Homo sapiens: one gene and its partner. The protein of the gene in region 1 purifies or fractionates together with the protein of each later gene. This does not show direct contact. Each region holds a gene or a part of one and is shown in the gene's direction. Other genes may lie near its edges. The genes, in order: PFAS and SEPHS1.

Evidence for each region.
Region 2: the proteins of PFAS (region 1) and SEPHS1 fractionate together in Homo sapiens (co-fractionation; 2 studies listed by BioGRID). This does not show direct contact.

The regions. Positions count from the first base shown.
Region 1 is NC_000017.11:8,247,634-8,251,544, forward strand, and holds the start of PFAS (phosphoribosylformylglycinamidine synthase), read left to right. Parts: upstream 1-1,655; 5' UTR 1,656-1,706; intron 1,707-3,911. Other genes in the region: CST complex subunit CTC1, read right to left, coding at 371-403. UniProt on the Homo sapiens protein: Phosphoribosylformylglycinamidine synthase involved in the purines biosynthetic pathway. Catalyzes the ATP-dependent conversion of formylglycinamide ribonucleotide (FGAR) and glutamine to yield formylglycinamidine ribonucleotide (FGAM) and glutamate.
Region 2 is NC_000010.11:13,320,532-13,324,442, reverse strand, and holds part of SEPHS1 (selenide, water dikinase 1), read left to right. Parts: intron 1-1,395; coding exon 1,396-1,608; intron 1,609-3,911. UniProt on the Homo sapiens protein: Synthesizes selenophosphate from selenide and ATP.

The DNA.
Region 1 (3,911 bases):
ACGCACTTCGGGTCTCAGACGCTTTTACTTATTATGGTTGCCCTTTTCCCCTACAGCTCCGTCAAGGGTCTTCTCCAGGAACCCACAGCCCCATAGTTCCCCCATTAACCTGCTCCTGGTTTCCCACCAGGATTAAACCCTAGAGAGTGAACGGAGACCAGTTTAAGGCTCACAGCGGGCGCCGCGTGAATGAGGGAATAAACATTCGCAGAACCAGTAAGAGGTAGGAGCGGACCGACTCACAACCCCCTCACCCATGGGCCGGACGCGGCCAGCGAGCCCAGAGAGACAAGGCAGAGGAAATAGGAAGAGAAAGAGTATCTGTGACAAACAAGAAAAAAGGAACAAGAGACGTAATAGCAGCACTCACGGAGGAAGGGACCTGGGCCCGGCCAGCCGCCATGATGCGCCGGAGCTCCGCCCCCGGGAGGGGCAGGTGCTCGCTTGGGGGTGGGGATGGGGGTGGGGGGGCGCTCGGTGACGTCACCGGTGAGCGGGTTTCCTCGCCACCTCCAGCTCCTTCTCGCTGCTCACCCCCTCGCTTCCTAGAGACTCCGCGAGGCGCCTCGGTGCACCATCCCAACTCCCGACACCCCTGTCTCTTTTCTCTGATTTTTTTTTTTTTAAGACGAAGCCTGGTTCTGTCGCCCAGGCTGGAGTGCAGTGGCGCGATCTCGGCTCACTGCAACCCCCGCCTCCCAGGTTCAAGGGATTTTCCGGCCTCAGCCTCCTGAGTAGCTAGGATTACAGGCACCTGCCACCACCACGCCCGGCTAATTTTTTTTTTTTTTTTTTTTTTTGTATTTTTAGTAGAGACGGGGTTTCACCATGTGGCCAGGCTGGTCTCAAACTCCTGACCTCAGGTGATCCACCCGCCTCAGCCTCCCAAAGTGCTGGGATTACAGGCGTGAAACACAGCCCCTGGCCCTCTCTGATTTTTTTGAGACGAGGTCTCGCTCTATCGCCCAGGCTGGAGTGCAGCGGCGCCATCTCGGTTCACTGCAGCCTCGACCTCCCGGGCTCAAGCGATCCTCCCACCTCAGCCCACCAAGTAGCTGGGATCGCAGGCTTGCACCGCCACACCCGGCTAATTTTTGTATTTTTCTGTAGCGACATGGTTTCGCCATGTTGCCCAGACTGGTCTCGAACTCCTGGGCTCAAGCGATCTGCCCGCCTCGGGCTCCCAAAGTGCTCGGATTACAGGCGGGAGCCACCGCGCCCAGCCTCCGTCTCCCTCCTAAGTGACATCCTGTCCGGCATCCCGCAGGCCTTCAGATGGATGGGGTAGCAGAGCTCAGGAACTCAAACACAGCCCGCCTGGTGGATGACTTCTAAGCATCTTTCAGTCTCCCTGATCTTGCCAAGCAGAGAAGGGCTTCCTCGTAATGCCACCAAAGCACAACTTTCACATGCTTGCTTTATGGCCTTAACTAACTGATGTCATTACTTAACTGTCCCCGCGGGGACGGGGAACTGAATGTATTTTCACAAACGTCAGTTCAAGACAGATTTGTGGGAGAAACCACCTGGGGATAAACCTCTCCCCACCAAGAACCTAGAATTCGGCCGGGTGGCTGGGGAAAAGTGGGCGGGGCGTAGTCGCCCCGGCGCTGGCAGGTCCAGTCTCTGCCCGCGGCGCACGCGGATGACGTAACAAACGCGCGCGACGATTCGAGGTGCTCTGTGGCCGCGAGTGCATCTTCCACGTGAGTATAGTTACCGCGTGCGGACCTGGATCCTCCTCCAGGTGCAGCGTTTCGTCATCTAGCCCAAGCTTGGTCTGGCGGCTTCAGTATCCCCACCGGGCCGAGCTGTGTCTACTTGGTGCCCGCGTATTTGCTTTAGTGGAGGCGTCCATTCGTCCTATCTTGCGTGCGTTCCGCAGACCCCAGGCATGGCCGACCCCCATGTAAATTTAGCCCCATTGTCCCATTCATGGATTCAGCTAACAGAAAGACTGCCGGCCGCCTACTTTATATCAGGCACCATGCTGGTCATGGAATACAGCCCTCATGCACGCAAACCCTGTCTCTGAGCTCTTGAAGCTTATATTTTACTGGGAATGATAGACGGAAATCAAGTGGCTTAATAAACAAAATGCCTTCAGGAAGACTGTCCTGAAAGTTGGGGAGGGGCTGAAGAGTGGTGAGAATCAAGAGTTCATTAAGTCATTCCACAAGTTTTAGAATTTTTTTGCGTTTCAAGCCCTGGTATTGTTCTAAGCCTTGGTAATTCAATGGAAACGAAGCAGCAACATCCCATGCCCACGTAGAGATTTTTTTTCTAGTGGGGAATATAGAGCGAAAAATAAAAACATCCAATAGTGATAAGCGCTTTACAGGAAATTAAAATAGGGCCGGCCATCTGATAGTAACTACTTGAGTGGCTAGTGAAGCCTTTTCCACGAAGGCGAATCACCAGAAATCTAAATAACAAGAGCTAGCCATGCATATGTCAGGGTGAAAAAAATGCCTTCCAGGACTGAGCTTGGCAAGTTAGAGAAATAAAAAAGAAGCTAATGTGTGGTTGGTGCATTGTGGGTGAAAAAGAGAATGGTGTGAGATAGGGTTGGAAAGGTAGGCCAGAGAGTGGCCAGACTTGGTAAACCAGGATGCTGAGTTGGAATTTATACCATGTGTAATGGGAAGCCATAATCCACTTTATGCTGATGTGTGACAAATGAATTGTGGTTATGCAGTGGTCAGGAGGTTAATGCATTGGTCCAGGTGAGTGATGGTGGTGGCTTACTTGAACTAGAGTGAGGTAGTAGAGATGAAGAGATGAGAGATTTGAGACATGATTGGAAATAGATTTCCTGGTGGATTGGATTTAGAGAGTCTGAGGGAAAGAGAATTAAGGATGACTTCTGTGTTTTTGTCTTGAGCAACAAATTGGATGATGGTAGTGTTTACTGAGTGGCAAGACTAGGGGAACAGCAGAGTTTGGTGAGTAAAGCCAGGGTCCCGCTGAGAGGCAGTGGGACCAGAAATTGGATAGGTAGTTTGGGATAGATGGGGAGGGCCTTTGAATGTTAGGCTAAAAGTATTAACTGTAATAGTTCTGTTGCCTGATGCACACTGGAGGTCAATACACCAAGACACCAGGTTGCAGCAGAGAAAGAGGTTTAATCATAGGGCTGCTGAACAAGGAGACAGGAGGAAACCTCAAATCCATCTCCCAGAGTACTTTGGGGCTAGGGTTTTTAAAAAAGAGTTTGGAATAGGATTAGGATGAAGTGTGAAAATCATTGATTGAAGAGTGCAGGGTGAGGTCATGAAACAGGGAGATGAAGAAACTGATTCTCATGCTCACTTGGTTCCACTGTGGGAGTCTTTTTTTTTTTTTATTTTTTTTAATTTGAAAGATGAGGTCTGCCTGGCGCAGTCGCTCACGCCTATAATCCCAGCACTTTGGGAGGCTGAGGTGGGTGGATCACGAGTTCAAGAGATTGAGACCATCCTGGCGAACATGGTGAAACCCCATCTCTACTAAAAATACAAAAATTAGCTGGTCATGGTGGTGTGCACCTGTAGTCTCAGCTACTCGGGAGACCGAGGCAGGAGAATCGCGTGAACCCGCAAGGCAGAGGTTGCAGTGAGCCGAGATCGTGCCACTGTACTCCAGCCTGGCAACAGAGTGAGACCCCATCTCAAAAAAAGAAAAAGAAAGACGGGGTCTTGCTCTGTCACCCAGGCTGGAGTGCAGTGGCACAATCGTAGCTCACTGCAGCCTCAAACTCATGGGCTCAAGCGATCCTCTTACCTCAGCCTCTTGAGTAGCTGGGACCACAGGTACATGCCACCATGCCCCACTAATTTTTAATTTTTTTTTTTATAAAGACAGGGTCTTACCATGTTGCCCAGGGCTGGTCTCAAACTCCTGGGCTCAAGCAGTCCACTGCTTTGGCCTCC
Region 2 (3,911 bases), on another chromosome or scaffold:
TCAAAAAAGTTGAAAACTTACATTCACACAAAAGCCTGCAGACAAATGTTCATAGCAGCATTATTCATAATTGCCAGAACTTGGAAGCAGCCATTCATTTCTTCAGTAGGTGAGTGGATGAATGGATAAACAAAATGTAGTGTATCTGTATGATGGAATATAATTGAGCAGTAAAAAGAAATGAGCTATCAAGCCATGAAAAGATGTGGAGGAATCTTAAGTGCATATTACTAAGTGAAAGAAGCCAGTCTGAAAAAGCTCCATACAGAAGGATTCCAACTGCATGACATTCTGCAAAACTGTAGAGATGCAGAAAGGATCAGTGGTGGCCAGAGGTTATCGGAGAGGAAGGGGATCAGGTAGAGCAGAGCACTGAGGATTTGTTACTTCCCACTTAATTTCTTTCTAAACGCAAAACTGCTCCAAAAAATAAAGTCTGTAAATTTTTTTAAAATTAAATAATAGGTCGGGTGAATGGATAATTAAATAATAGTAGGTGAGTGGATGAATGGATAAACAAAATGTAGTGTATCTGTAGTATGGAATATTATTGAGCAGTGGCTCACACTTGTGATCCCAGCGCTTTGGGAGGCTGAGGCAGGACGATTGCCTGAGCCCAAGTGCAGTGAGTTATGATCATGCCACTGCACTCCAGCCTGGTCAATAGAGCAAGACTCTGTCTCTTAAAAAAAAAAAAAAGAAAGAAATTTAAAAATAAACTTGCACGCAATTCACCTTTCGCGGGAGTACCTTGATACTGAGCAAGGCCTTCTTAAAAAGTGCTGGTCTTGGCCGGGTGTGGTGGCTCACATCTGTAATCCCAGCACTTTGGGAGGCCAGGGCGGGCGGATCATGAGGTCAGGAGTTCAAGATCAGCCTGGCCAATATGGTGAAACCCTGTCTCTGCTAAAAATACAGAAATTAGCTGGGCGTGGTGGTGCGCACCTGTAGTCCCAGCTATTCAGGAGGCTGAGGCAGGAGAATCACTTGAGCCCTGGAGGCAGAGGTTGCAGTGAGCCGAGATCGTACGACTGCACCCCAGCCTGGATGACAGAGCGAGACTCCATCTCAAAAAAGGAAAAAAGTGCCGGTCTTTGGTTTTAGGATGGTCTTGGCCGGTTTACCTTCCACTGAGATCATAATCCCTCTGCATAGTTTTTTTAGTTTACTGGAAAACTACTATTAATTGAAGCTTCTGATAGTTTTCAGGTGGCTCAAAGTGAAATAAGAACTTTTGGAATTTCACTATGTCTTTGGTTGATTTTACATTGCGTTTTCATTATTCCGATACGTCATCTCCCTGACAAGTAAGGAAGTTGCAGATTAATTGTGGACGTAAGATTTTTGAGTTGAGGAAAGGTGTTTTTTCTCAGAGCCGCCCCCTCTCTCTCCCAGCTGCAGGACTCATGCACACGTTCAATGCCCACGCCGCCACTGACATCACGGGCTTCGGGATTTTGGGCCATGCGCAGAACCTGGCCAAGCAGCAGAGGAACGAGGTGTCGTTTGTAATTCACAACCTCCCGGTGCTGGCCAAGATGGCTGCGGTGAGCAAGGCCTGCGGAAACATGTTCGGCCTCATGCACGGGACCTGCCCGGAGACTTCAGGTACAGGATGCTGGGCGCATCTGAGGACTAAATAGTGAGGCTAACAGAAAGCTCAGCGAGAAAGCAGCAGCCCCACCCCGAGTGGGCCCCCACTCTGTTCGAGTTCCATGCTGCTGACCTCGGCCTCCGCAGCAGCTGGTGCCTTTCCTCCTCCCGGTGGGTCTGGTCCCCGCCATCCTGGGTGGATCCAGCAGCCTTGCTGAGGTTGAGTGGCCTGTGCTCTTTTTGATGCAAGGATATGGTGATGGGGGAAATAAGGTAGCATTCAGTTTTTACTGAAAGCTTCGCATTTGAAATTAACTGTAATACCCCTAGGTTACTTTGAACAGGTGATATTTTTTTCCTTGAAAATTGTCTAACGTTGTTTTAAGAATGATAGAGAGAAAAGGGGCCAGGTGTGGTGGCTCTTGCCTGTAATACTGGCACCTCAGGAGGCTGAGGCAGGCACATCACGTGAGATCAGGAGTTGAAGACCAGCCTGGCCAACATGGTGAAACCCCATCTTCACTAAAAATACAAAAAAAAAGTAGCTGGGCGTGGTGGTCCATGCCTTTAATCCCAGCTGCTTGGGAGGCTGAGCCAGGAGAATCACTTGAACCTGGGAGACAGAGGTTGCAGTGAGCCGAGATTGCGCCACTGCACTCCAGCCTGGGTGACAGAGCGAGATTCTGCCTTAAAAAAAAAAAAAAAAGAAAAGAGAATGATACAGAATAAAAAAGAATGCAATAGGATATTATGTCTTTAAAATGCCATTTTTCTTTTTTCTTAGATGTGCAGTAATTTATTAGAGGAAACATAAATGGAGGATAAACGGGAGATGGAGCAAGCGTAGGTAGAGAGAGCCATCAGACAGCAGTGCAGGTCTGACACCATACGCCCCAGTAGTTTGACTCCTAGGGAGCTTTTATATCCCTTATCATTTTTCTAAGATTAAGCTCCTTTTGTTTCCTGATTAATTTGGTGGCCACATCTGTCCGGAACTTGTGGGACGTCCTCCTCTTCATCATGGCAGGTACTCCAGCATGGCCTGCCGGCCGCCGAGGCCGCCACCCACAGCCTACAGGCTCGCCATCGCTCATTCCCACTCCCGCAGCCCCAGCTGGAGCCAGATGGCGCGTCCTCCTGAAGTACCATTTCTCTTTTGCCCCCTTTGTTCCCTTTACCTTTACTGTTTTCATCTTTTAAGTCTCCCTGTTTTTCCCTTTTTTTCGGTTTCTCTCTTTTTCTATTTCCTTTCCTCTAGAACTCTAGTTTTCTACCCGCAAAAGAGTGGAATCACCTTAGGATTTTAAATATACACATGCCGGCCAGGCCTGGTGGCTCACGCCTGTAATTCCAGCACTTTGGGAGGTCGAGGTCAGGAGTTCGAGACCAGCCTGACCAACATGGTGAAACCCTGTCTCTACTAAAAATACAAAAATTAGCGGGGCGTCGTGGCGTGTGCCCTGTAATCCCAGCTACTCCAGAGGCTGAGGCAGGAGAATCGCTTGAACCCAGGAGGCACAGGTTGCAGTGAGCCAAGATCGCCCCACTGCACTACAGCCTGGGCGACAGAGTGAGACTCTGTCTCAAAAAAAAAAAGAAAAATACACATGCCTAGCCCCAGCCTCCCAAAAACGGTGGGATCCATCTCGGGTGGGCCTGGGCCTCAGCATCTGTGAAGGCTGCCTGGGAGATTCCGTAGTAGGCCGGGGCAAGGGACCACAGTGCTGGGACCACAAAGCCCTGGTCACGTCGACCTGTGCTGTGGCGAGGGGGCTTCAGGACTCTGCCAGGCCTCTCACCGCCTTTATAGAGGACGCTTCAGCCTCCCGTTTAAAAAAACAAACCATTTTCTAGAAGTAAGCTCCAACAGGGCAGGGTTTTTTTCCCCTGCTGGTTCAGGCTCTGGCCAGGACAGTGTCTGCCACATAATTGGGCACTGAATGGAAATTGAATGAATTGACGAATGTTACCAGCCATTTAAATTTGTTTCCTTTCTTCAGAAATAGGAAGTTTTTAATTTTATGATGGAGTTTTCCTCTTGTCACCCAGGCTGGAGTGCAATGGCGCGATCTCAGCTCACTGCAACCTCCCCCTCCCCGGTTCAAGCGATTCTCTTGCCTCAGCCCGAGTAGCTGGGATTACAGGGCTGTGCCATCATGCCCAGCTAATTTAGAGACGAGGTTTTACCATGTTGGCCAGGCTGGTCTTGAACTACCTCCTGACCTCAGGTGATCCACCCGCCTCGGCCTCCCAAAGTGCTGGGATTACACGTGTGACCCACCATGCCCAGCCACAAGGTTTTTACATTTTGTAGAAGT